7 linked regions of the Homo sapiens genome follow. The protein of the gene in region 2 purifies or fractionates together with the protein of the main gene of each other region. This does not show direct contact. Each region holds a gene or a part of one and is shown on either strand. Other genes may lie near its edges. The genes, in order: IARS1, PKN2, ERLIN1, TMEM9B, PRKAR2A, TMEM9 and SLC12A4.

Region 1 (4,631 bases), on a different chromosome or scaffold from region 2:
AATAATTTTATTTTCGTATATGGTGTGAGGGAGGGGTACATGGCTATTATTTAATATTCAGTAATGGTAGAGACAATGTTTCCAAAAGTAAGCAGGAAAATCTTGGAAATTCTATCTAGTGGTGCAAAAAACTCATTAATAATCTGAAGAAAAATATCTCAAAGTAGTTAAGAATTTTCTTACCTACACTCACATGACAGAAATCAGTTCTCTTGAAGTAACTTCATCTTCTCTTTGAGGAAAACTGGTAAAACTTAAAAAATCTTAAAGCTAAAAAGATGAGAATCTCACATTCAAATATAGATTCCAGTTTTCCATTTTACCCTTTTTATTGCTTATTCATGATTTTTATGAAGGATGAGCCCTATACCTTTCTGGTTTAGTCCCTAATGAGAGAAGTCTTAAAGTGTCTTTTTAAATGTTTTGCTAATAACCTCATGCAGAGATACTTGATCAATCTATGACTTAAGTATCTAGTGAGCCACCCTTGAGACCTTTCCTTCTCAAAGTCTATTTATATTTACTTAACAATTCTAACAAGGTGGGTGACGAGCTTTCCAAGTCAGTATCAGATCAGAAGGGGATAAAATTGCTAATAAGGGAACAACAGAGAAGATAAAAAATCTTAAGTACTCAAGAACCACAACAGACCAGGGTAATCAACTCTACAGGAAAAGACACCTACATACCTCAAACAGTTTTGAAAGCATCAAAAGCATCATAGTCTAATCAAGTTATTGATTCAAGTTATCATTTAAAAAAAAGTCTGTGACAAGTAGTATCTTTCATTTTCTTTTACCCTCATTAATTTTTCAGATGTGTGAGTGCCTCTGAGTTTAATTTAAGAAAAAACAGGACAAGAACAGTTGGGCTGTTTAACTAACTGAAATAGCTATTTCTGATCACAGTATGCCATTAAAAGGTATTAAACAGAAGGTTTAAGGCATTTTAGATCTTCAACTCTTATTATAACCTCTAGCCTTTCAAGGACCAAAATAAGTGTTTGTGCATTTACTGATTTATTTAGGTTCATTGTGTACCTTATCAGAGGCCAACTGAAACTTATGGGATTGTTATCTGAAGACTAACAGACCTTTAGATACCAACACATTCTAATCTCTTCAAGGCTGGTCCTACTATGGCCCACATCTATGGGAGCTTATTAGAGATGCAGACTTACCAGCCTCACCTCGCACCTACGAGTCAGAACCTGCATTTTAACAAGATCCCTAGGGGATGAGCATTCACATCAAAGTCTGAACATCACCACTCTTGCACTGTTCTAACAATTATTCAGGAATATCTATCTGAATTTTTATTTTTGAGAAAATAAGATTTAAGCTTTCTGAGAAGAGGATCATTCCTTTTTTTTTTTTTTTTTTGAGACAGTGGCTCACTCTGTCACCTAGGCTGGAGTGCAGTGGCACAATCATGGCTCACTGCAGCCTTGACCTCCCTGGGTTCAGGTGTTCCTCCCAGTTTAGCCCGCCAAGTAGCTAGGACTACAGGTGTGCACCACCACACTCAGCTTTTTTTTTTTTTTTTTTTGGTGGGGAGGGGGTGGTTTGTAGAGACAGGGTTTTGCCATGTTGCCCTGGCTGGTCTTCAACTCCTAGGCTAAAGCGATCCTCTTGCCCTGGGCTCCCAAAGGGCTGGGATTACAGGCATGAGCCACTATGCCTGGCCAGCTCATTCAGCTTTTACTGTGTTTTTTAGGGAGTCTCTACTTTCCCCAAAGATTAAGAATCACTGCATTATTACGTCAAGCATAAACACTCAGTATAACAGCATTGACTATTCAGGAAGAATCATGTACCAGCGACCGGGCTATGGCAGCTGCTGAGGAGAAGCAGCCTCCATGCATAAATCACAGGATTGCTATGGCCCATCGAATCCACTGGAGAGCTGTCCATGCACAACAGCATCCAGCAACCACAGGGCAGGGACAGAGCAGGTTAACCTTGCACAACAACCTTGTTGTGCAGAGGGATGCCATCCCCTTTGCTTCCCTCTTATTATAATCCAGGCCCTTGACTCTTCGCTGCTCCACAACTCCTTCAGGTCACCTTAACCTCAACTTCCCGTTCAGCAATTTCGAGACCACCCTCCCTGATATTAACTACATATTATTCACATTACTTCATATTATTTTGCCTCAATATATTTTAGAAACGCACACTAAAACCATGTTTTGTTTAAAATTTCATAATTCCTTCCAGAATTGCTTCCCTTTTAAACTACTGTATTAGTGGTTCCAATATTCTTCCCATTACTTAGGCATGACATTTTTGAGTCACCCCTGACACTACTCAGAAGATACACACAACCAATTAATCATCAAGTCATGTGGATCCTACCTATAAGCCTATTTCTGTTCCCCCTTTTCATTCTCCTCTAAATCCATTTCTGTTTCTCCTTTTATTCTCAGGTCTTCATAATCTATTAAGTCAAATGTAACCTGAAAGTGGGACCGTCTCAAACGTTTCCTCAATTTAGTTATATCCTATTAACATAGACTCCACAGGTATACTCATGCAAATGTACAAAATGTGTATACAATGACATTCACCGAATAATTGTTTCTCCAGGCAAATAACTGAAAACAATCTAAATATTCATGGTGACTGAAGTAAATTACGGTACATCAATAAAATAAGTATCTCGCAGCCATTGAAGGTAATAAATTAAGACATATAAAAATACGTATTGCCTATACATAAAGTCACAGCTATATCAATTTATACTATGTATATCATTTTAAAAAGATTTTACTCATTTCAAACACTACCTCATTCAAAAAGGCGACCATAAATTCCTGAGGCTGGAAACGAACGAACGGCAAGCCCCGAAGAAACACGCTCTTTTAAAAATTAAATCTTGTGCTACTGTTTCGGGGTTGTAACGCGTGCGTGACCCTCGTCTTTGAGGGCCGGATCCTGCAGGGAAGAGAGGGCGTACCTGAGGGGCCTCGCGTGCCTGGACAGCCCCGCGGGCCAGCAAGCCTAAAAGCAACTCATCCGGCGTCCACGCTGCAACCGGGCGCACGGAGGTGATGCAACGCGCTGAAAATGCGGGATCCAGTGAAGGAGACAGGCTCCGCACCGGCCAATCAGTGCGCGCTGCCTGACACCTGCCAACAAGCCAGGCGCCGATTGGTCGCGCCGGACATGATTGCGCCCACTGGCTCGGATGGTGCGACAGTGGTGCTTGCTGGTTTTGCGCCTCCACGTGGAAAACGAACCAGCGCTGAGGGCGGCGCTGTGCGTGCTGCTTGTATCCGTTGCAGTAGTGTAGACCGAGGTCTCACTCGGGTTGTGGGCACCTCCGGGTAGGTGACGGCCCACTGGGAAGGGGCGCCGAGGTCGGGGCTCATGTTCTTCATCTTGTTTGCTTTTGTCAGTATTTATCTGACTGGACACTTCGTACCTAAATTGATAACGACAAACAGCAACTTCCGGAGAGGTGGCTTTAATAATTATACTTTTGGGCCCTGAGCCGCCGACCCCAAAGCCGCTTCTCCTATCATAAATGGCTACGTGAAACGATAATAACAAAAGGGAAGGAAGGGTCTGACAACCAGATTTAAAAGTTTTATTGTATTTTACTTAAAATGTTTCCGGTAATGAAAACATTGCACAAACGATTTTTTTTTCTTTTTTTGAGAAGCGGTCTCATTCTGTCGCCCAGGCTGGAGTGCAGTGGCACGGTCATGGCTCACTGCAGCCTCAACCTCCCCGGATCAGATGATCCTCGCACCTCATCCCTGGCCAAGTAGCTGGGACTACAGGCTAGCGCCACCACGCCCGGCTAATTTTTGTATTTTCTGTAGCAACGGGGTCTTGCTATGTTGCCTAGGCTGCTGTCAAACTCGTGGGCTCAAGCGATCTGCTTGCCTTAGCCTCCTTAACTGTTGGGATTACAGGCATGAGCCACTGCACCCGGCCTGCATACTTATTATCATTGCTATGAGTCGGCTTGGTACCTTACTGATCTGCTGGTTAAAATCTGGAGCCTTGCAAAGGGCAGTAGGCCTCGGGCTTTGGCCCCAGAGCCTCTAAAGGAAATTCTGGATCTTGCCAAATTGGGAGTAGTTCCGTAGCTGCCTATTGTATCCGTTAGAGGGATATAAAAAATTTATCTGGCCTAGAATAGGTAGAATGCAGTTTCTTATTAAGTTTAGGAACATTTTGATAGTCTGTTCAGCATATATTTAACTTTACTTACCGTCTTGGCCCTGTGTGAAGGATTAAAGTGGTTTCATGTCCTCCATCATGGGTAACTCAGTGTTCTGACTATACTCACATAACGTACATAATTTAATAGCTGCAAATCTTGTTAATTAACTGAAAGTATTTGGAATGTGTTTGAAGTTTTCACATTCCTCACGTTGCCACCTTGTTCAGTTCATTTTTGTCACCTATCCAGAGAGCCCAGATAGAGCCAGACAGAGGGCTCCTGGACAAAGGTGAGGTAGGCCAAGTCTAATTATTTAAAAATTTGATTGAGAAACATTTATATTAATAGTACTGTTGTGTTGGAAATAATGCTCAAAATCCTAAGGAAATTGAACATTCAAACAAAGGATTTTCAGCAAAGCAATTTTACTTCTGCGCAGAGGGGTGCTTCTCCTT
Region 2 (3,899 bases):
TGTCCCATGCTTTCTTGATCTTCATTTTTTACAGGCAATATTTATGTATATAATGTTACACAAATTTCATTTTTGTGATTGCAAAAAAAAACCAAGTATGATAATAGAGCTAGTTTCAAACAAGATTTCATCAGATAAAATTAAGACAAGCTAGACATGCATCAAGATAAAGATTCTCTATTTCTGTTTCATTAAGGAATTACTTTTTCATTAGTATATTTTTCCCACTCTAAATTTTAAATCTTTTTAAAGCTTTTAACTAGTTTTCAACTTTGCTGTCAAGTTTGAACTCTGCTGTATATCAAAAGTTGATCATATTAAATGTCATATACTGTAGAGTAAAATTGGCTTTTGAAATAATATAGACATTTGACAATTATCAGCACAGTATATTTTATGAGGGAATAATGTAGAATTAACTGTTTTATTCAAATACCATTTATGGTATGAAAGTAACATTATTTTAGGTGATGTTTACAAACTACTACTTTATTTGTTTAAAAGTAAACATGCTTCTGATGAATGGCATGAAAATTTACCATTGCCAAATTCAAAAAGCAGAAATAAGAGAGCCCAAGGAATCAGATGCTAAGCTCTGGGATAAAGAGATGATGTCTAAAAGGTGCCCCTACTTGTCCCTATTTCAACACTATGTGAATGGTAGGAATTGCATGATACTAGACCTAATCTCTATTACACTAATGAGAGATGACAAAAAAATCCATTTTAGAGCCATCATTTAGTAACACTAGTTTTAACACAGACTTTTATCTTGGTAGTCAAGAAATATTTGGAAAGTTATTTAGTATGTTTAATTCAGCAAAGTATGCGCTGCAAATTACAAACATTGTGGTAGTCTATAAGAGCAGCAACAATCAAACCTAAGCCGGAAAAACACACTGTATTGCTATATTATTCAAAGAAATTGTTGCTATACTTCATTACTGTCTATTACTAAATCCATACTACTGCACTTTTCTTTGAGACAGGTTCTCACTCTGTCACCAAGGCTGGAGTGCAGTTGCGTGATCTCAGCTCACTGCAACCTCCGCCTCCTGAGTTCAAGCAATTCTTGTGCCTCAGCCTCCCAAGTAGTTGGGATTACAGGCACACATCACCACACCTGGCTAATTTTTGTATTTTTAGTAGAGACAGGGTTTCACCAAGTTGGCCAGGCTAGTCTCGAACTCCTGACCTCAGGTGATCCGCCTGTCTCAGCCTCCCAAAGCACTGGAATTACAGGTGTGAGCCACTATGCCCAGCCTGCACTTTTCTTCTTAATAAAGCCGTGACTCATAATTGAAATATTTTGAGATTAAAAAAGGCAATAAAAGCTAATTAGATCCACTCATCTAGAACCAGTGGCAAGAAAAAAGTTTTTAACCTACTGTGATTTCTATCTTAAAATTCTCTGAGCTTCATTTTTCTTCAAAATTCTAGTAAGTAAAATGAGATAAAGAAAAAAAAGAAAAAATGGACTCTACAGCCATGGGACTTTTAGGTGGAAAAAGTCTGTCAGTCTCTAAGTGACAGAACTATGAGCAACTTTTATTTTCTTTTGTGCTTTTCCACATTTTCTGGATTTTCTGTAATACATGTGCATTACATTTCTAATTTGAAAACAATGTAAAGTCTGTCTTAACTACCCTGTTTACCTTCTCATACCACCAACCCCCAAACCACCCTAAAATTTTAATCCTCCCAACTCAGACCTTCCACTTTCCAGTGTCACTGCAAAATTAGATGCCGTCTTCTCATTTTCCATTAAATGAGTAAACTACCAGTGTGCTATATGGAAGAATGATGTAACTACTATAGAAATCCCTTTTGTACTTTTAAAGAGAATATTTTTGGGAGAAGGGATTAGAAATGTAAATTAAAGAAAACTACGTAATTTCATATGTCAAAGATTATAATGAACTTCTCTTAAAATAACCTAGACATCCCTCCTCCTACGTGACAAATGGAGCATTCTCATCAATGTATTGCGCACCTACTAAGTGTCAAACACAGAGCTAGGTTACATGTGAGTATAAAATTTTAAAGCAAAGCACAGTCTACAGAGTAATGTTAAATCTTTTGGGAAGTTTTGGGCAAGCATGTGACACCTTTCATTAGAAACAGTAATTCTTAATGAAGAAACCCTGTAAAAAGATTATTTGTACTATTATTCTTTGTGAAATATTAGACTGTATCTACAATAATAAAACACTGCTAAATTATAGACTACCAAGTGGAATGTAGAAATCATTTTTCCTTGTTACAGACGGAGCTAACAAGTAGTGTAAAGTTAATGTTGGTTAATTACGTTTTTGGCCAATTTGTAGAAAGTTCATACAACTATAACATTAGATGCAAAACATTTATAGTTCCCCAGAACTGTGGCAATTTAAATAATGGTGTAGTGGCGCCGGGCATGGTGGCTCACACCTGTAATCCCAGCACTTTGGGAGGCCGAGGCAAGCGAATCACGAGGTCAGGAGTTCAAGACCAGCCTGGCCAACATAATGAAACCCCGTCTCTACTAAAAATACAAAAAATTAGCCGGGTGTGGTGGCAGGTGCCTGTAATCCCAGCTACTTGGGAGGCTGAGGCAGGAGAATCGCTTGAACCTGGGAGGTGGAGATTGCAGTGAGCAGAGATCACACCACTGCACTCTAGCCTGGGTGACAGTGCGAGACTCCGTCTCCAGAAAAAAAAAAAAGAATAGTGTAGTGGGAAACATACAGACCTGGGTTCAAACTCAGACACACAATGTAACCATGAGCAATTTCCTTAACATTCTTGAACTTGTTTCCTGATCCACAACATGGAAATAACACCTACCTTATTGGATTGTTGTGAAGATCAAATAAGGTGTATAGGACACTAAGTACAATGTCTGATATATAGCAAATAATTTTTAAAATGTTATTTGTAGTCTCTTATAATTATCTTCTAGTACAATTATCTATACTCTCTTCTGGAAAGCAAAAACCTATCTTGTCATCTTTATATCCTCCAATATAGCTTTGGTAGATACTACATAACTGTTTGGTGAAATTAACCCCTGTAATTTAAGGGTAACTATCTCAACTTTCCACTTGAGCAAGTTACCTCTATCTAAATAAAATCTGCTGAGAATGGAATTTAAGATTCCCAGACCAACACTTTATTGGGCATTTTGATGAAGAAAATGAATCTCCAATAATCAACAAGGTAGCTTTGTTAGTACACTGCTCAATATTTGGTCTGCATTCTACAAAATTACCATTGTAGCCAACACTTTCATTCTGAGATTCTTTACAGTTTTCATTAATCCAGGTTTCTTGGAAATAGACTTTAGTTTCTTTGGCATTGCAAAAATGTCTGTTTTCTGCTATACTTCAAATAAAAAAAGAGAATACAACACAACAAATTAGTTATGAGATAAAAATTAGAAATTGGCCATTTTAAACAGCCGATTTTTATTTTTACTACAGTAAATATTCTTCCTTATACCTTGAAACCTCTAGCCACCAAAGTTTACATAGTTTATTAATGCTTCCTTGTTGAATAAGCCTCCTGAATTACTAACAATACTTAAAAACATTACTCCATGCTATTACAGTAATTAACAAGACAGAATACTGTAGTTTCAGATTTTCTTACTTTGCCTTTCCATGACCAAAAGCCAATTCCAGCTCAAGCAGTGGAGTATTTCAAATTCTACAATTTGAAAAAATAATGAAAAGCTGGATATATTTCTAAATAAATATCAATTTTATTAAAGCCAGGTTGTAATATGTAACTTTCAGAGTAAACAAGTATTCCTGAGACAGGATACATAGCAAAGTAACAGTTTTAACCATTAAATACATCTTAAAACTGGCTACAAAACTTCTTAAATACTTAAAATCTGTATGGCAGAGAAGAATTAA
Region 3 (3,899 bases), on a different chromosome or scaffold from region 2:
CCTGAACTCAGGTGATCCAACCACCTCGGCCTCCCAAAGTGCTGGGATTACAGGCGTGAGCCACCACACTCGGCCAGGACTGTCTTTTGAAGACTCCTATTTTGCTGAATGAGGCTGAAGAACATACTACATTGTGCTTGCCAATCTTGGGAAATCTCACAGATTTTCAAATATGTGAAAACATAAACACTTACTGTACAGATACCATGAGTAAGTTGCATCAAAAGAGATTTTAAAAGTAAAAGTGGGAAGTCCCACTCAGGCACCCCTCTCCCTCACAGGAGAGAGAGCTATTCTCCTTTCTGTTTCTTTTGCCTATTAAACCTCTGCTCTTAACCTCAAATAATAAAATAATGCCCCCATCCCACTCACATACATAGAGTGAATGGAGGAAAAAAATGGCTAATGAAAGGAATATATGTATTGAAACTGACCCCTGGGTTTTAAGCATATATTATATATCAAAAGCCAGTCTATAATATAGTCACTCCCTTAAATAACATAGGAAAAAAAAAATCAAAGATGACCATTTTCATCATTCTAATTTGCCAGAGTAGTTTTTCAAGAAGAAAAATGGTATATAAATATATGGAAAGGAAAAAAATATAATAGTGACTGTAAAAATAGTAACCCAAAAATTACTAGAAGGCAGTGAATTCAAGTTGTAGATATAAGATAAATCTACCAAGAATCAATCACATTCCTCAATGATTAAAAAAAAAAAAGACTACATATTGAACAGCATTAAAATTCATTAAATCCATTGGTATTAATTTAACTTAGGATATGAGTTTCTCCCCTAAATCAGAAATTCTAAAAACCAAAAAGGCTGATATGATAAAGTAAAGCCATAAACTATGTTTCTATTTTTAACTTATATTGGAGGATTGCATGAGGCCAGGAGTTTGAGACCAGCCTGGGCAACACGGCAAAGGCCCATCTCTACAAAAAATAAAAAAATTAGCCAGATGTGGGGGTGTGTACCTGTACTCCTAGCTACTTGGGAGGCTAAGGCAGGAGAATCACTTGAGCCCAGGAGTTCAAGGCTGCAGTGACCTATGATCATGCCACTGCACTCCAGCCTGGGCAACAGAGGGAGACCCTGTCTCAAAACAAAACAAAACAAAACAACATGTATATGACCACTTAGGTGCCTGATATAGCTTGAAAATATCGATAATGAAAACTCATCTGGAAGATTAAGCTGGCAGAAACAGCAAAGGCCATTATTTTTTAAAAGATGATGTCTCTTGCCAGATTTTAAAATAAAAAGTTGAATTATCACAACCATATGGTAATGTGTTAAAAATAACAAAGCTCAAAAACAGCCTTGAAATTCTTAAAATGCATTCCAACTATTGTAAAAAAAATTTTATAACAAGACAAAAGCAACCAAAGCAAAGGAGCTCTTCTCTTCTCAGGGTATGCTTAAGTTATTGCAAAATATAAAAATTATTTTAAAATTTTTTTAAACCCTAAAACAATGGAGATCTCTACCACTTTAAGAACGTATAACAAAACTACATTTTTTCAATCAATAACTTTTTATAAAAACAGCAAATAAATATAAGTAAATTCAAAAGATCCTTCTGGCTGTTGTGCAGAAAATGAAGTAGACAAAGGTAAAAGTGAAAGTGGGGAAAGAAGACAGGCGGCTACTGCTACTGCACATGTCAAGGTTAGAGTTGGTAGCTTGGCTTGAGATGACAGTGAAGATGGAGGTGTGGTCAGTTTTATTAATACATGGATTTTGGTGGTGGAATCTGCAGGACATAGGGACTGATTAGATGCTGAGGGTGAGGCGATTGTCAAAGATGCCTCCTACACTTCTAGATTGGCTTGAGGGGAAAGAGTTACCATTAACTGACAAGATGAAAAACACAGGAGAAAATTCGATTTGATGAGAAAAGACCAAGGACTCAATAACTAATGAAAGAGTAGGAATGGGAAGATCAATGGAACAGAACTAAGTTCAGAAAAAGACTCTAGTATATAATGGAATGCAGTATGTAACATAAAAACTATTTCAAAGAAGGGGGAAGATGGAAAAATAAACTATTCAGTAATTACCGCTGTTACCCAATTTGGGGTTGAGGGGATGGAGCTGAAGGCCTACCTTGCAACTGAGATCAAAATGGGTTGCAGATGAATTAAAAGATTTAAATCTAAGAATACAACTGTAAAAGCAGATACAATTTTTATAATTTCTAATTTTAATTGCTATACTTTTAAGGTGGTGAAAAGCTCTTAAAACATGCCAGCTCAGCAACACACCATAAAGACAAAATCACTGAAATTACTATGTAAAACATGAACACTTCAAAGTTATCAGCAAGGAAAAAACAAAGTTAAATGACAAAGAAAAAATTTGAAGAAAATGTTTCCTATAAATATAAAAAAGAGCTACAATAACTAACATATGAAAAAGTTTATTTTTAAAAACGAATTCTACCCCTCTCAAAGGGTAAGGTTCAAAAACAAGTTCTCTATATACAAATGCTATTTATTTATTTATTTATAGACAGGGTTTTGCTCTGTTGCCCAGACAAGAGTACAGCATGAACACAGTTCACTGCAGCCTCAACCTGCTGTGTTCAAGTCATCCTCCCACCTCAGCCTCCCAAGTAGCTGGGACTACAGGCACATGCCACCACACCTACCTAATTTTTTAAAAAAATTTTTTGTGGAGAAGGGGTCTCACTATGTTGTCCAAGCTGACCTCAAACTCCTGGGCTCAAGGGAGCTTTCCACCTCAGCCTCCTAAAGTGGTGGGATTACAGATGTGAGCCGCTATGCCCAGCCAAAAATAGCTTATTAAAATCAGTTAGAAAAACCATTAACTACAAAAATGAGCAAAACCAACAATTTATAAATGAAATAAAAACAGCTAATAACCTAGGGTATTCAACTTCAATAATTAACACAAAATAACAGACTAATTTTCTCCAAAAGGATTAAGAGAGAAAGGGAAAGCTTGCATCTGCTAATTATTTGGGTACAATCATGCAATCAAATGTGTAAGAACTACAGCTTACCAACACTGCTAATGAGGGGGGGAGCTGCTAAAATTTTTCTAAAAGGTGATTCGGTAGTATGTATCAATAAGCCCCCAAACAGGGCATACACTTTGATCATCAATCCCACTTCAAGAATTTATTGTAAGAGAGGGATTTAAAAAGATGTACAGAATATATAAGCTTGGTCATTCCAACATGCATACAGTAGTAAAAAATTTGAAACCATAGAGATTCACTAAATATAACCATTAAAAGTAATGATTTACCAAACCTATATTTTTGTTTTGGAAAGATGTTCATAGACAATGTTAGTGAAAAAAGCAAGTATGGTATGATTCTGCTTTAGTTGAGCATGTATGCATTTATATCTACAAACATTTGTTCATATACATTAAGAATAGTCGAGAAAGATATAACAAATGATGTTATCCCTGCATAATAAGATTACTGGTGAATTTCATTTTATTCTTCATCATTTTCCTAGTATCTAACTTTTTTCTACAACATAAATAACGTGTGTGTATAAAAATTCCAAATTTATACAGAACAAATCAGTAAGAAAGAAAACAATCCAACAGAAAAATGGGCAAAAGATATGAATAGGCAATCAGCAGAAGACAGTATAAATGACCAATAAATGTATCAAAAGATGTTCAACCTCATTAACAACCAAAGGAATGCAAATCAAAGGGAGATATAATTGCCCACCCATCCATATGGTAACAATCAGTATGTCTGATTGCTTCCAATGTTGGTGAGTTCATGGGTCACAATTATTTGCACATATTGCTGTTAAGAATGTACATTTGTACAGTCAGTTTGAAAGATAATTTGTACATACAAGAACATGTGTCATGAATGTTCATTACACTATTGTTTAAT
Region 4 (3,899 bases), on a different chromosome or scaffold from region 2:
AGAGCTCTTGCTCCAGCAGGGTGCTGAACTTTAGATAAATCCTCACTGTACTATTATTTAACAGATTTGTAAAAAATATACAACTTATGTACCCTAAAAGTCACTCACTATAAGTATACAATTCTATAAATTTTAGTAGATTTAAAACATTTTAAAATCCAGTTTCAGGCCAGGCATGGTGGCTCACATCTATAATCCCAGCACTTTGGAAGTCCGAGGCGGGTGGATCACTTGAGGTCAGGAGTTCGAGACCAGCCTGTCCAACGTGGTGAAACCCCATCTCTACTAAAAATATAAAAATTAGCCAGGTGTGGTGGCACGCACCTGTAGTCCCAGCTACTTGGGAGGCTACGGCATGAGAATCACTTGATCCTGGAGGCAGAGGTTGCAGTGAGCTGAGATCGTGCCACTGCACTCCAGTGAGACTCTGTCTCAAAAAAAAAAAAATAAAATCCAGTTTCAGAACATTCCCACTACCCCAAAAAGATCCCTCATGCCCATTTACAGTTAATTCCCATTTCCAGCCCTACTCGGTCACTAGTCTACTTTCTGTCTCTGCATACATGGACATTTCATGTATATGGAATCATATAATATATAGTCTTCTGTGACTGGCTTCTTTCATTTAGCACAATGTTTTTGATGTTTATGCAAGTTGTAGCATGTATCAGTACTTCGTTTCTTTTTATTGCTGAATAGTATTTCACTATATGAATATGCATTTATCAGTTGATGGACGTTTGGATTATGTCTGGGTTTTTACTATTATGAATAATACTGTTGTGAATATCTGCACATATGTCTTTGTATGGATATATATGTTTTCCATTCTCTTGGGTTAATTCCTTAGAATGGTAAAATTATGTTTAACTTTTTAAGAGACTGCCAGATTGTTTCCCAAAGTGGTTGTACCACTTTACATTCCCACCACAGCGTATGAGGGCTGTTTCTCCATATCCTTGCTAATACTTGGTATTGTCTATTTATTTTATTGTAGTCCTTCTAGTGGGTGTGTCACACTGTACTTTTTCTCAGTACATGAATTAAGGTCACAAGAAAAAATCACCGGCCTAGAAAATACTTTTGTATATCTAAATTGAGCTAAAGAGTAGCTGAATTTAGGACATTATGTTCAGCTGGGAAAAGAAACAAACTGCTGTGCTAGCAGTGGTGACAGGTGATTAGCAGTAGGTGAAGTTGGAGTCTTGAAGACTTGCAAAAAAATCCCAAAGATCTTTCCTCTTTTTTTCTTAAATAATACTTTGGTGAAGAGTTGAGTTTATTTCTTATATTGCTATCTGGTTTGTATAGAAATCCTATAGGCTTAGCAGATATGTCAGTCAGTTTTACTATTATCATACAAAGTTCTGATTTATGGGCTTGAACAAAGATGTAACTTAATTTTCAATTTCCTTTAGGTTACCATTATAATTTATCTCTCCATTTTGGGCCTTCTACTTCTGTACATGGTATATCTTACTCTGGTTGAGCCCATACTGAAGAGGCGCCTCTTTGGACATGCACAGTTGATACAGAGTGATGATGATATTGGGGTAAGTTCCCAGCCTGCCCTAGCTGCTCATGGCCAGTCCCTGTCATCATTCGATGTGAAGTGCAAGTGAAAAATAGTCATATATAGATGTTCACGTGCTGAAGCAGATCCTCAACTAGAGAAGCTAAAAACAGCTCTGATTTCAGTATATACCTCTTTATGAAGAAATTGCTTGATGAAGCCATAAATGTGATGATTTAAACGATGATCTTTGGTGAGCATGCTATACAGGGCCTTGCTTTCAGTACCAAAGGCACAATTTTATTGCCATTCCCTGTTTACATTGAGAAAAGTATCAGAGATGGTTTTCTCTCCAAGCTCTCCTGCCTGAAACACCTTCTCTGTCAATATCACCAAATATTTTAGAAGGCAGAGAGGTTTTCATCAAGGGAAGTGTGAAGATCATGATGTTCTTTTCTTAATGAAGTACAACTTGATAACCTGCTGATGTTTTATATTTCCTTTTTTTCTACTGCTTAAAAAAAAATCTGTGGGCCAGGTGTGGGGGCATACACCTGTAATCCCAGCACTTTGGGAGGCCAAGGTGGGAGGATCACTTGAGCCCAGGAGTTCAAGACCACCCTGGTCAACATGGTGAGACCCTGTCTCTACAAAAAATAAAAGCATTAGCCGGGTGTGGTGGTGCATGCCTGTGGTCCCAACTATTCAGGAGGCTGAGACAGGAGTGTCACTTGACCCCAGGAGTTTGAGGCTGCAGAACTGTGATCACACCATAGGACTCCAGCCTAAGCAACACAGCAAGAAGCCTGTTTAAAAAAAAAGAAAAAAAAAATCTGAGATCTTTAGAGAAAAATAAAACCATGACTACCATCACTCCAGATTCTCTTCCTGTCTTTAAATCTCTCACACACACACACACACACGTGTGTACATTATATATGTTTATATATATATATATATAGCGTGTGTGTGTGTGTGTGTGTGTGTGTGTGTATATAGTTGGCATAATCTGTATAAATTGCTTCATGGTCTCCTTTTTGTTTTAATATTCGTTTATTCAAAAATGTCCAGAAATTGACTTAGTCCACAAATCTGTTTTTCAGTGTAGCTTAGAGAATGTTTTTTTTGTTTTTTGAGACGGAGTCTCACTCTGTCGCCCATGCTGGAGTGCAGTGGCGTGACTTTGGCTCACTACAACCTCAGCCTCCCAAGTTCAAGCAATTCTCCTGCCTCAGCCTCCCAGGTAGCTGGTTCTACAGGCACCTGCCACCACGCCTGGCTAATTTTTTTTGTATTTTTAGTAGAGACGGAGTTTCACCATTTTGGCCAGGCTGCTCTTGAACTCCTGACCTCAAGTGATCAGCTCGCCTCGGCCTCCCAAAGTGCTGGGATTACAGGTGTGAGCCACTGCGCCTGGCTGGATATTTTTGTTTCATCATTACCCTGTATGAAATTGTTTCTGAATTTTCCTTTTTTTTTTTTTTTGAGACGCAGTCTCGCTCTGTTGCCCCGGCTGGACTGCAGTGGTGCGATCTCAGCGCACTGCAAGCTCCGCCTCCCGGGTTCACGCCATTCTCCTGCCTCAGCCTCCCAAGTAGCTGGAACTACAGGCGCCCGCCATCGCGCCCGGCTAATTTTTCGTATTTTTTTTTTCTAGTAGAGACGGGGTTTCACTGTGTTAGCCAGGATGGTCTCAATCTCCTGACCTCATGATCCCCCTGCCTCGGCCTCCCAAAGTGCTGGGATTACAGGCGTGAGCCACCGCACCCAGCTGAATTTTCCATTCTTTCATTATTATATATAATTATTTTTTTAGAAATTACTTTTTCTCGTGGATTATTATATTGGACTATGTTCCTTAAAATGGGTAAAATTCAGAATAGTTTTAAGGTTCAATTCAAAAGCCAAACCCAGAGTGAGCCCTTGCCAGCCAGTCAAAAGTCCTTTTACCCTGGAATGGCTCGTGCATCTATAGGCATAGACGTTGAAAGTCTTAAACGACATCCTTCCTTTACAGCGTTAAATATCTGTTCCTGATTTCAGAAATAGACAATATAATAACACAAAACATAAGAGAAATGGATGTAGAGATGAAAACATGTAGGGCAGGCATTTAATTGGTGGGATCACATGCTCAGTAATTGTTTTGTCCACCAGTGATTGATTCTGCTTGTGTATTGACTATTTGAGAACACTGTCTCTGTGAGGCCTGGCTGACTCTTGGATGTCTTTTAAACTGATTCTAGGCAGAGAGGTTTTCTGACCAGAGCTGTGAATTTATGGTAACAACTCTACAAAAATAAGTGAATTTTAATTTTTAAAACTGTTGCTTATCCAAGATGTGAGTTCTGCACTATTTATATACTTTAAAAATGTTTTTGTTGAA
Region 5 (3,899 bases), on a different chromosome or scaffold from region 2:
TAGTCCTCTGAAGCTTATTGACGTCCGTCTTACTGACACGTGCAGATCTCTTGCTTCCTCTCACCTTTCCTTGGCTTCTAGTGTTTGTTCTTTTGATGTCATTTTCTTTTGACCTTAAGTAAGTTTCATCCATTGCTATTAGAACCTGGGGAAGGTTAAAGAGTTCTGTCCTCTAACTTTCTATATTTGACACAAAGGCATCCTTTTGGCTAATCTAACACAAATCAGAGTTCACAGTCTTCAGTGATTAACCAAATTTGTAAGATGTAAAGATTACTAAACAGTGGGCTAGATCATTGTAATGAGTACTGTCTGATAATTTTCTTTGTCCGCTGTGTTTGTATTTTTAATTAAACATAAATAGTATTGGACTTTTCCAGGTATAAGCTTATCTGCCTATGGTTCTGGCTCAAGAGCACGGAGAAGATACATGGTTGGTCTAGGTTGGGTGATATGCTTATCCTAGAACCCAGTACTGAGACTACGAGGAGGAAAGGCTCAGATTGGTCAGGTGTGGGTCCTGTGGGTGGAGTTGGCCCCACTAGAACACAAGGACTAATCAGACTTACCATAAAAGGGGAGAAAAAAGCTCCCTTGGAAGAGATAAAGGACTAACAAAAATATGATGTCTACTCTGAGTCACATCTCTAAATGTATTTGTTTTCTAGGAGCCGTTACTATTAATAATTCTTTTAATTAGAAATTGGAATATTCTATAAACATTTATTAAGATAGGTAGGACCAGATATGATAAGCACTATAATGAAGGAGAGTATGAACGACAGTGAGAACATAGAAATGGAAGTAATACATATGGTTTCATTGAGGAAATGCCATTTGAGATGGGCTTAAAAAACAAGTGCAATTTCAATGTTTGGGATCAGGGAAAGGTCCTTCAGAGCAAGAAAACAATATTAGCAAAGGCCAGTGGTGTGAGCTGTGTTTCAGAGCAGGTATCCTGGTATGGTAAGAATGTAGTGCTGAGATTCAGAAATGGGAGATGTTAACTGGCCACATTTGCTTCTGAACCTAAGGTGCTTTAAGTAACATTCAAAGGACCTTCAAGTCATCCTGAAGGTTCTAGGCCTGTCTCATACTGGGTTTTCAGGAAGTATGTCAGGAGATGTGAGAAGTCAATAGTGTTTTCTTCATGGTCTGTGCTCTTGAAGATAGAGTGCTATCTATCTTCAAGGTAGATAGGTAGTGGTACAGAATGGACATTAATTAAGATGATATTAAAAGGGGCTTATTGTAGGTCCCTTTTGTCAATGTCTCTCACTGGACCAAGGCTTCTCAAAGTGAGGTCCCAGGACCAGCAGCAATCAGCATCATCTGAGGATGTTAGAATTGTTAGGAATGCAAGTTCTGGAGCCCCCCACCAGACCTGCTGAATCAGAAACTACATTTTATGTTGTTTCATTTGTTTTGATCAGCTTTGTTACAGTGTATTTTACATACAATAAAATTACTAAGTTTAAGTGTACAAATCGGAAGAGTTTTGTAACCATCCCCAAGTGGTATTTCCATCACCCATACAGTTCCTTGTTTTGTATTTGCAGTCAGTACCCTCCCCCACACTCACATTCCTGGAAACCATTGATGTTTTCTGTCACTGTAGAAATTCCTTTCTACAATTTAGTATAAATGAAATCATGTAATGTATAGTCTCTGTGTCTGGCTTCTTTCTCTTAGCATAATATTTTTGAGATTTATTCGTGTTGTATGTATCAGTAGATCGTTCCTTTTTATTGCTAATAATATTTCATTGTACAAATGTAATTTTTTTTTCTTTTTGAGACGGAGTTTTCCTCTTGTTGCCCAGGCTGGAGTGCAATGGCGCAATCTCAGCTCACCATAACCTCCACCTCCCAGGTTCAAGCTATTCTCTTGCCTCAGCCTCCCATTACTTTTTCTTTTTAATGAGATACAGTCTTGCCCTGTTGCCCAAGCTGGAGTACAGTGGCATAATCTCAGCTCACTGCAACCTCTGCCTCCCAGGTTCAAGCGATTCTTGTGCCTCAGCCTCCCGAGTAGCTGGGACCAGAGGCACGTGTCACTCTGCCCAGCTAATTTTGTGCATGTGTGTGTTTTTTTAGTAGAAATGGGATTTCACCATGTTGGCCAGGCTGGCCTCCTTAGTAAATACTTAAGAGTGCAATTGCTAAATTATATTTTAACTTCATAACAAACTGTTTCTTAAAATGGCTGTACTGTCTTGTATTCCTACCAGCCATGTATGAAAATTCCAGTTTCTCTGCATTCTCACCAATAAATAGTATTTACAGCCTTTTTTAAAAAAATTACAGTCAGGGTCTTGCTATATTGCCCAGCCTGGTCTCGAACTCCTGAGCTCAAGCCATCTGCCCGCCTTGGCCTTCTAAGTGCTGGGATTATAGGTGTGCACCTCCGCACCTGGCCTTCATTTTCTTAATGGTATCTTTTGAAGAGAAAATGGTTTTAATTTTGACAAGTCCAGTTTATCATCTTTTCTTCTTTGTAGTTGTGTACTTTTGCTGCTGTATTTTAGGAAATCTTTGCAAAATCAATAATATGTTCTCCTAAGTTTACTTCTAAGACCAGCACTATTCAATAGAAATAATATGTGAGCCACATATGTAATTTTAAAAATTTTTGGTCAGGCAGGGTGGCTCACGCCTGTAATCCCAGCACTCTGGGAGGCTGAATAGCTTGAGGCAGATAACTTGAGGCCAGGAGTTCGAGACCAGCCTGGCCAACATGGCGAAACCTCGTCTCTACTAAAAAGTAATAAAAAAAATTAGCTGAGTTTGCTGGTGCACAACTGTAATCCCAGCTACTTGGGAGGTTGAAGCACGAGAATCGTTTGAACTTGGGAGGCAGAGGTTGCAGTGAGCCAAGATCATGCCACTTGCATTCTAGCCTGGGGGACAGAGCAAGACTTGGTCTCAAAAAAAATAAATAAATAAAAACTTTCAGTAGATATTTGAAATGGTGAACTTAATTTTAATATATTTCATTTAACTCAGTATATCTAAAATGTTGTTTCAACATCTAAGTGATATAAAACTTTATTAATGAGATATTTTACATTTTTAATACTGTCTTCAAAATCTAATGTATGTTTTCCATCTATAGCACATCTAAGTTTATACTAGCAACATTTCAAGTGCTCAGCCACATTTGACTCGTGGCTAATGTATTGAGCAGTACAGCTCTAGACAGTCAGAATTTTAGCTCTTACCTTAGGTCTGTGATCCATTTTGAGTTATTTTTATTGTTTTTGTTTTGTTTTTTTGAGATGGAGTCTCCCTCTGTCACCCAGGCTAGAGTGCAGTGGTGTGATCTCGGCTCACTGCAAGCTCCGCCTCCTGGGTTCACGCCATTCTCCTGCCTCAGCCTCCCAAGTAGCTGGGACTACAGGCGCCCGCCACCACGTCCGGCTAATTTTTTGTGTTTTTAGTAGAGACAGGTTTCACCGTGTTAGCCAGCATGGTCTCAGTCTCCTGACCTCGTGATCCTCCTTCCTCTGCCTCCCAAAGTGCTGGGATTACAGGTGTGAGCCACTGCACTCAGCCTTGTTTTTGTTTATTAGAAGCAAGGTCTCACTCTGTCTTTCAGGCTTCAGTACAGTGTGCAATCATAGCTCACTGCAGCCTTGAACTTCTAGGCTCAAGCAATACTCTTCCCTTAGCCTTCCAAGTAATGCCACCACACTAAGCTAATTTTTTTTTTTTTTTTTTTGAGACGGAGTTTTGCTCTTGTTGCCCAGGCCAGAGTGCAATGCCACGATCTCAGCTCACCACCACCCCCGCCTCCTGTGTTCAAGCGATTCTCCTGCCTCAGCTTCCTGAGTAGCTGGGATTACAGGCATGCACCACCATGCCCAGCTAATTTTTTTTTTTTTTTTTTTAGTAAAGACA
Region 6 (3,899 bases), about 110 Mb from region 2:
GGCTCATTGCTCCTGTGGAGAGCAAGACGGATGGGGCGCGCTGGCCCACTCATGGCATGCCCCTGAGCAGAGTGGCTAGGGCTGGTAAGAAGGTGTGTGCTGGGGGTGAAGGTCACGCCTGCCCTCCCATCAGCCCCTCTGCAGGGAGGGGAAAGCCAAGGGTAGAACAACAACTCCACGAATCTCTTACATACACAGTGCTTCACAAGCTGGAGTCATTTTGTTTTTACAGAAAAGACAGATTTAATGAGGCAAATTCAATGTTTCTCAATGTGGGTGCTCTGGGATTTTGGGTGGGACATTTAGCATCCATGGTCCCTGTAACAGTGTTGGTAATACACCTGTTATTGGGACCACAAAAGCACCTTCACCCACCTCTAAATGCCCCCTGGGGGGGCTGTAATCATCTGATTGAGAACTGCTGGGCTAGATCACCTGTGATCCCAAGGCTACCAGATGGTGGAGGTGTGACTCAAACCCAGACTTGCTGACTCCCTCTCAAATGCTTTTCCTAATTCCACAATGCCTGGCCATTGCCGGCTTCTGATCTCAGCCCTGCCCTACCTAGACTGTGAAGAAGAGTGAAAAAAAGAACCTCAGGACTTTCAAGCTGGGTGCCCCGCTCAGCCAATAGCCAAGTTCCACTGGACCAATGTCCCACCTGATTGGGGCACCGCGTTCACGCCTGTTTAAACAGGGCAAATAATCAGACCTCACCTGTACCCCAGGAAGGCGGAAGGAGAACAGAGGCTGGGTCTTCAATAGGCTGAAGTTGAGGGGAGCCTCCTAGGTAGGAGGACTGGGGGAAACACGAGGGATTAGGAAGTTGTATCTGATGAGGTCCCCATGCCAGGAAGTTCCCTCCCGGCCAAACAGGGAGCAGCGGTGACATCTGGCTCTGAATTTCAGGTCTCAGGCATCTGGTCCCTGGAGGGTGAGGCCCACTGGAGCAAGTTCAGAGAAGGAGAATGACAGTTGCAGGAGGGGCTGCCTCAGGTGGATGAAAGGAGTTGGGTCTGCACAGGGCACTGGCTGGGAGTGAAGGACAGACAGCTGCTTTTTCCCTGAGTGGTGAGAACACAGAGGAGCTACAGCACAGGGCTCCCTGGAATAGGCAGGAAGGACAGCAGTGAAGACCACCGCCCCCTAAATGTGCCTCGAAAGGAGAAACCTGATGGAGGACCCAGCAGTGCCTTTAAATATGAGAATTATTTTCCAATGCTATTTATAGACTCTTCAAAGGACAAGCAGAAAAATGCTACAAACTGGAACAGAAAGGGCTACATTAGGCCAGGCATGGAGCTCACACCTATAATCCCAGCACTTCGGGAAGCCAAGGCTGGAGCAGTGCTTGAGGCCAGGAGTTCGAGACAAGCCTGGGCAAGACAGTGAGACCCTGTCTCTACCAAAAATTTAAAAAATTAGCTGGGTGTGGTGATGTGCACCTGTGGTCCTAGCTAATCAGGAGGCTGAGGTGGGAGGGTTGCATGGGCCTGGGAGGTCAGAGCTGCAGTGAGCTGTGATCGTGCCACTGGACTACAGCATAGGCAACAGAGTCAGACCCAGTCTCTAAAAAACAAACAAAAAAAGAAATGGCTATGTAATCAGTGAGTACTGTGTGTGCCAGGTGCCTGGCCCAGGATTGTTAGAACCTGGACTAGGAAGCCGCACTGGGGGGCTGGGGGTCATGACGGTCTCTGCTAGGGCGGCTTCACAGCCTCTAGAAGACACGGGAAGTTCTGCCTGGTGCAGGAATGAACAGACACCTCGTGACGTCTATGGTGGTGACTGTGTCTATCATCTCTTTCCTGAATTCACCCAAATGATCAATGAGAAGGTGGTTCAGGAAAACACAAAAGAACCAATCTGATGTTCTCCCAGCACCCAACACCCAGCCCTAGTCCACAGCTCTGATGCTTTTTAGAGGAGCTTAGTCACTTTGGAAGCTTAATTAGACTAAGCTCCAGGAGGGCAGCCCAACCTCCCCATTGGCAGCATCTTGCCCAGAATATAGCAGGCACCGAAAAGAGATTTACTGGATGAATAGAAGAAGGGAGAGGAACGAAATAAACTGTAAAGAATGCAGGGAAAAAGGAGTCTCCAGCAGCTCTCCCAGGGCTCTCCCCTCTCACTGTAATGGTAACTACTGGAAAGAGAGCAGAGAAGGGAGCTGGCTCCAGGAAGGTGTGGGATGTGGGTCCCAGTGTCTGCACTAGGCCAGCCTAGAAGCCAGTCTCATAGCCATTGGGACATTCCAGAATAAAGTGAAAAACTGTGGGTGTAGGCCAGTCTGCGATTGGAGAATGGCGTGTGGGAATCCCACTGGCTTCCTGAGACCCTGGCGTTACCTTGATGGTGGTGGTGCTGCGCTCCTCGTACCTGCACTCGCACAGCAGGCAGTAGGCCTCCACGTCATGGCCAGGCACTGGCATGGGCTCCACCACGTGCAGGCAGTTGCTACAACAGAGAGAGACAGGGCTGTCGAGGCAGGGCCACCACGTCTTAGAGCCTCAAGACCAGAGAAGCAGGTAGCCAGGGGAGCTGAGAGGTAGGGGCTAGGCAAAGGTGAAGGGTGCTCCCAGAGAGGGCCAAGGGCTTATAAAGGATTAGGCTGGCAGAAACCCTTCCTAACCCACAGCCTCACAGCCCATGCCCCTTACACATCAAAACCAGCTCTCCAAACTGCCTACAGGGCTGGCTCCAAAACCATCAACGTTCCCAGGGTTCTACCCCCAGCCGCCTTCCTCATCTCATGCTATGTTCTCCCGGCATGTGCTCATCTGTCCCAAAGGTTCAACTCAGAAGCTGACGGATCTTAGATCAGAATCTCCAGCCAGGGCCGCTCTCCTCTATGAGCTACAGGAGTCACTATGTGCATGTCCCATAGAGACCATGAACTCTACACCCGCCCCTGCACACCCTTTGCCCTCAACTCCCTACTCCTGCAAACTGGCTCCCCATTTGCAATGGCAGAGAGAACACTTCTACCGTCCACTTCACTGTCCGGGTCAAACCCTGGAAATCATCTTTGACACTGCCTTCCTCTCATCTAAGTAAAATCACCAAAGGCCAGTGATTTTACTTCCCTAAAAATTCCTAGAATCCATCTCCTTTATTCTCTCCCACTGCTGTGTCTTAGCTGAGGCCCTCATCCTATCTTCCTCGGACAACCGCACCAGCCTCCGCGCTGCCCTCCTGCCTCGAGTTTGGCCTTTCTAACACATACTACCTTCCCACGGCAGCCAAGTGGTTTTCCAGAATGCAACTCTGGTCATGTCATTCCCCAGCTTAGGCCCGGTCAGTGCCTCCACAGAGCCCCTAGGGCCAATGCTAACTCAATTGCTCTGCCAGGGGTCCCAACCCACCTCACTCCAGTTCCATCTCTTGCTACGCCTCCCTCACCCACTTTCCCAACCTCCAGCCACACGGATCTGCCAGGCTGCTCTCTGAAGGAGCCACACCCACACTCTCACCAGGAGGGCATGGCTTTGCCACCTCATCTTTTAACTCTCAGCTTAGCCACCTGTGCCCAATAGCCAGCTCCCCCCAACCCCCCGCCAATGCACTGCATTGTAATCCAATCTTTATTCGTGCTGTCTCCCCAGGAGATGTACGTTCCTTGAACACAGGGTTATGTCTTATACATCTCCATATTCCCAGTACCTAGCTGGGTGCTGGCCAGAGCAGGCTTAGTAACTACATGATTCCCAAAGGAAGAGTAGACCCACTTTCATCTAACAGCACTCTTGCGTAAGGTGGGATAAAGATCATAGGTTCCACATCTAAAAACAGGGAAAGAGGCTTAGGAGGCAAAGTGGCATCTCCATAGTGGTAGTGAGGCCAGAACCCAAATCTAGACCCTCAGCCACAGGTCTTTACTTCTGACTCAGCCTCAGTGG
Region 7 (3,899 bases), on a different chromosome or scaffold from region 2:
CTTGTGTGGCCAGCTTGGGAACGGGGGCAGGACTGGCCGCCTTCCCAGCCCCCCAGTGTCCTCCCAGCCTGGCTCCTGGCAGCCGAGTTTGGAGTGAGTGGAGCCTGTCTGGCCAGCGTCCAAGGCCTGCAGCAGCCTGTCTTCCCCAGCCACCAGCCCCTGACACTGCCTGGGGATGTTCCCACAGGATCCATAAAGGCCTCTGTGGAAGGCGGGCAGTGGCGGGCTCTGGGTGACGGTGGTTCAGCCACCTTTGTCTGTCGACTTCTAGCTGGGCAGCTCCTTCTCTGTGGTCAGGGTAGCCCTGTGGCTGACGCTGCAGTCATTGGGCTGAAGCTGTTCCCTGAGTCCCCAAAGTTGCCCTGCATCTGCGCCTCTGGCTAGGCTGCCCCAAACTACCTGGGGTAGTGGGGGGCAGCTGTGGTGGTGACACAGCTACCCCTGCAGAAAACCTGTGGAGCGCCTACCTGGAGAAGGGTGACATCGTGGAGAAGCATGGGCTGCCCTCCGCAGATGCCCCGAGCCTGAAGGAGAGCCTGCCTCTGTACGTGGTCGCTGACATCGCCACATCCTTCACCGTGCTGGTCGGCATCTTCTTCCCTTCTGTAACAGGTGAGCCCTGCCTGCCTACCCACCCAGCCCTGTCCCCAATCCCGGGGAGCCCCTGAGGGAGTCTCATCTGTTTTTGGAGGCATCATGGCTGGCTCAAACCGCTCTGGGGACCTTCGTGACGCCCAGAAGTCTATCCCTGTGGGGACCATTCTGGCCATCATTACAACTTCCCTCGTGTGTATCCTTTCCCAGGCCTGGGGCAGGTGGGGCAGAGGACGGGAAGCGCTTGGCCTGTGTACGTTGCCAGGTCACATGCACAGACACCCCACACACTCATATATAGCTCCCCTTCTCATGCACACATGCACATACACACCACGAGACTCCCAGCTGTAGGTGTCCTGGTAGTCTGGCTGGGGTGGGGGCACGTGGTACTATTCAGGGACAGTGGGGTGGCAGAGGCCGAGTTTTCCTTGACGCCGCCGCAGACTTCAGCAGTGTGGTTCTCTTTGGTGCCTGCATTGAGGGTGTGGTTCTCCGGGACAAGTGAGTGAGCTGGGCCCCCCTCTTTAGCAGCGGCTGGGCTTTGGCCTGCCCTCACACCAGCTCCCAACCCCGTGGGTGGTCCTAAGCCTGCTGGCTGCCTTTGGTGGTCTGTGCCATCCTTCCGGACCCCTGACATCCCTCACTCTGGTGGCCCCTGCAGGTATGGCGATGGTGTCAGCAGGAACTTGGTGGTGGGCACACTGGCCTGGCCTTCACCCTGGGTCATCGTCATCGGCTCCTTCTTTTCAACGTGTGGCGCTGGCCTCCAGAGCCTCACAGGGGCACCACGCCTATTGCAGGCCATTGCCAAGGACAACATCATCCCCTTCCTCCGGGTGAGCCCCTCTGCACTCCCCCATGGCCTGGCTGCTCCCAGGCCCTCGCCCGGCTGGGGAGAGAGATAGGGAACACAGATGCAGCACGTCCTGCCCTTATTGGCCCCCGGGGCCAGGCGGCCATCCATGAGGAGCTACTGAGAAGTGCCCTGGGCCTGGCACTCACCTGGGCCTGGAGCTGCCTGGACCCAGAATCTTCATGGCCTGTTTAGGGCTCATCCAAAGGAGAGAGGCCTGGTGAGGTGGAATCAGGGAGACTGGTGACACCCATAGGGATAGACACAGGGGCGGCCTGAGCCCCCAAGGCGGGCCCTGGGGGTGAGGGAGGCCAGGCTGGGGTCTGGGGCCCAAGGTGTGGAATGGGGGTGACAGGACCCAGCTTCCTTCCTGGTGCACACAGGTGTTTGGCCACGGGAAGGTGAATGGTGAACCCACATGGGCACTCCTCCTGACGGCACTCATCGCCGAGCTGGGCATCCTCATCGCCTCCCTCGACATGGTGGCCCCCATCTTATCCATGTGAGCTGGGGCCGGGCAGGGCAGGGGGATGGGGAAAGGCTTCCTGAACCCCAGCACCTCCCCGTGGCTGCGTCTGGTGTTGGAGGTCCAGCTGGGAGATGTGGCAGGCTGCATGGGGAGATGTGGCCTGACAGGGCTCAGCCCACCCCTGCATTTAGGAGCAAGCCTGGCACCTATGCCAAAGCTATAAGGTGACCAATATGTCCACACCTCCCTGAGGCCCCCAGAGCAGGTGGCCGGCAGACCTTCCCACTGGACAGGGCAACCACCGCGTCCCTCATGCCTCCATGAAGCCACTGCTGCCCCTTCCATCTGTTAGTTTGTTTTTTGGTTTTTGTTTTTTTTTTTTGAGACAGAGTCTCACTCTCTCACCCAGGCTGGAGTGCAATGGCATGATCTTGGCTCACTGCAATCTCCGCCTCCTGGGTTCAAGCAATTCTCCTGCCTCAGCCTCCTGAGTAGCTGGGATTACAGAAATGCACCACCACGCCCAGCTAATTTTTTGTATTTTTAGTAGAGATGGCGTTTTACCATCTTGGCCAGGCTGGTGTCGAACTCCTGACGTCAGATGATCCACCTGGCTCGGCCTCCCAAAGTGCTGGGATTACAGGCGTGAGCCACCATGCCCAACCCATCCATTTTCAAAGTCATTTGCTTTTAACATTCTGGAATCAGCCAGGCAAATCTGCGTGCCAGTGCCTTGCAGGGAGTGGCCAGCATGTGGTGACTCCCAGGGACCCCGAGGCAGCGCTTGTTTGGTTGACTCTGTCCAGGCTGGGGTCCTCGCCCACCCTGCTCCGTGGCTGACGCTCCTTCTTGCTTGTGCGGTTATGAAAGGCCTCCTCTTCCCTGCCCACTCAGCCTGCAGACTTGACAGGGGCCCTGTACCCCTGAGCAGGCTCCATCCCAGCTACAGCCAGGCCTGCTGGAGCCAGCACCCTCTTGTCCACCCCCCCACACCCCTTCCTCTCACCCAAGAGCACACCTGAAACTGTTTTGCCACAGCCATCTTGGGTGGTGACCCCCCTTGTGCCCAAATCAGAGGCTACATCTCAGCCTTTATCTCGGGCCTCCTGCTGGGAGCCCCTGCCCCCTGGCATGCCCTGTGTGGGTCCTCCTGCCTTCCTGCGCACCCGTCCTCGGGTGCCTTCCTGGAGGGCTCATGCAGCTGGCCCTGCCCATGCGTGGGACTCCCACGCCCACCGCAGTGACTCTTAAGTATCTCTGACTGGTTGCATTCAAATGGTCCAGCTTATCTTCCATCCTCCCCTTCATGCATGGCAGCCTCTCATCCAGCTGGTCACTCAGGCCAGAGGCCTGAATGTGGCCTAGAGTCTCCAGGCACTGAGCTCTTCCTGCTGCCCCTGCACCACCCTCTTCAGCTCTGCCCTGTTACTCCCCTTCCTACCTCCTCCAACAGCAAACCCTTGCCCATCCTCTGCGATCTGGCTCCGAGGACTCCTCCACAGTAGTCTCATTGCCTCAGGCCATGGAGGTGGCAGCAATGAGGTTGAGAAGACCTTGCTGAGCCATGCAGGGCAGGGCCGGGCCACGCCCCGTTTCTGGGCCAGGCCCAGCCTGACATCAGGTCCCCAGCTGCCGAGGAGGCTGCTCTTCGCCAACCGCCCTCTGTGCCGCAGGTTCTTTCTGATGTGCTACCTGTTCGTGAACCTCGCCTGTGCGGTGCAGACACTCCTGAGGACCCCCAACTGGCGGCCCCGGTTCAAGTACTATCACTGGTGAGCCATGCCTCTGACACGGGAGACCCTGGGGAGGCCAGGAGCCTCATTCTGGGTGAGGCTTGGGTTTCCTGGGTAGGGAGCTCTTGAAACACTGTGGGGAGGGAGATTATAGGGCTGCGGGGGACTGGACCTAGGTCTTACACCCAGTGACCTGACCACCCACCTGGGACCTCCCACCCGGGACCTGACAGGGCTACCAGGGCAT

Evidence for each region.
Region 1: the proteins of PKN2 (region 2) and IARS1 purify together in Homo sapiens (affinity purification with mass spectrometry; one large-scale study listed by BioGRID and IntAct). This does not show direct contact.
Region 3: the proteins of PKN2 (region 2) and ERLIN1 purify together in Homo sapiens (affinity purification with mass spectrometry; one large-scale study listed by BioGRID and IntAct). This does not show direct contact.
Region 4: the proteins of PKN2 (region 2) and TMEM9B fractionate together in Homo sapiens (co-fractionation; one large-scale study listed by BioGRID). This does not show direct contact.
Region 5: the proteins of PKN2 (region 2) and PRKAR2A fractionate together in Homo sapiens (co-fractionation; one large-scale study listed by BioGRID). This does not show direct contact.
Region 6: the proteins of PKN2 (region 2) and TMEM9 fractionate together in Homo sapiens (co-fractionation; one large-scale study listed by BioGRID). This does not show direct contact.
Region 7: the proteins of PKN2 (region 2) and SLC12A4 fractionate together in Homo sapiens (co-fractionation; one large-scale study listed by BioGRID). This does not show direct contact.

What each region holds. Positions count from the first base shown.
Region 1 is NC_000009.12:92,290,653-92,295,283, forward strand, and holds the start of IARS1 (isoleucine--tRNA ligase, cytoplasmic), read right to left. Parts: upstream 3,046-4,631; 5' UTR 2,959-3,045; exon of another isoform or gene 2,789-2,958; intron 1,942-2,788; exon of another isoform or gene 1,806-1,941; intron 271-1,805; exon of another isoform or gene 184-270; intron 1-183. UniProt on the Homo sapiens protein: Catalyzes the specific attachment of an amino acid to its cognate tRNA in a 2 step reaction: the amino acid (AA) is first activated by ATP to form AA-AMP and then transferred to the acceptor end of the tRNA.
Region 2 is NC_000001.11:88,686,894-88,690,792, reverse strand, and holds part of PKN2 (serine/threonine-protein kinase N2), read right to left. Parts: intron 1-3,899. UniProt on the Homo sapiens protein: PKC-related serine/threonine-protein kinase and Rho/Rac effector protein that participates in specific signal transduction responses in the cell.
Region 3 is NC_000010.11:100,168,909-100,172,807, forward strand, and holds part of ERLIN1 (erlin-1), read right to left. Parts: intron 1-3,899. UniProt on the Homo sapiens protein: Component of the ERLIN1/ERLIN2 complex which mediates the endoplasmic reticulum-associated degradation (ERAD) of inositol 1,4,5-trisphosphate receptors (IP3Rs).
Region 4 is NC_000011.10:8,950,857-8,954,755, reverse strand, and holds part of TMEM9B (transmembrane protein 9B isoform a precursor), read left to right. Parts: intron 1-1,418; coding exon 1,419-1,553; intron 1,554-3,899. UniProt on the Homo sapiens protein: Enhances production of pro-inflammatory cytokines induced by TNF, IL1B, and TLR ligands. Has a role in TNF activation of both the NF-kappaB and MAPK pathways.
Region 5 is NC_000003.12:48,760,657-48,764,555, reverse strand, and holds part of PRKAR2A (cAMP-dependent protein kinase type II-alpha regulatory subunit), read left to right. Parts: intron 1-3,899. UniProt on the Homo sapiens protein: Regulatory subunit of the cAMP-dependent protein kinases involved in cAMP signaling in cells. Type II regulatory chains mediate membrane association by binding to anchoring proteins, including the MAP2 kinase.
Region 6 is NC_000001.11:201,144,392-201,148,290, forward strand, and holds part of TMEM9 (proton-transporting V-type ATPase complex assembly regulator TMEM9 isoform a precursor), read right to left. Parts: intron 2,458-3,899; coding exon 2,349-2,457; intron 945-2,348; exon of another isoform or gene 718-944; intron 1-717. UniProt on the Homo sapiens protein: Transmembrane protein that binds to and facilitates the assembly of lysosomal proton-transporting V-type ATPase (v-ATPase), resulting in enhanced lysosomal acidification and trafficking.
Region 7 is NC_000016.10:67,947,853-67,951,751, reverse strand, and holds part of SLC12A4 (solute carrier family 12 member 4), read left to right. Parts: intron 1-447; coding exon 448-612; intron 613-691; coding exon 692-790; intron 791-1,040; coding exon 1,041-1,098; intron 1,099-1,258; coding exon 1,259-1,433; intron 1,434-1,833; coding exon 1,834-1,952; intron 1,953-3,592; coding exon 3,593-3,691; intron 3,692-3,899. UniProt on the Homo sapiens protein: Mediates electroneutral potassium-chloride cotransport when activated by cell swelling. May contribute to cell volume homeostasis in single cells. May be involved in the regulation of basolateral Cl(-) exit in NaCl absorbing epithelia.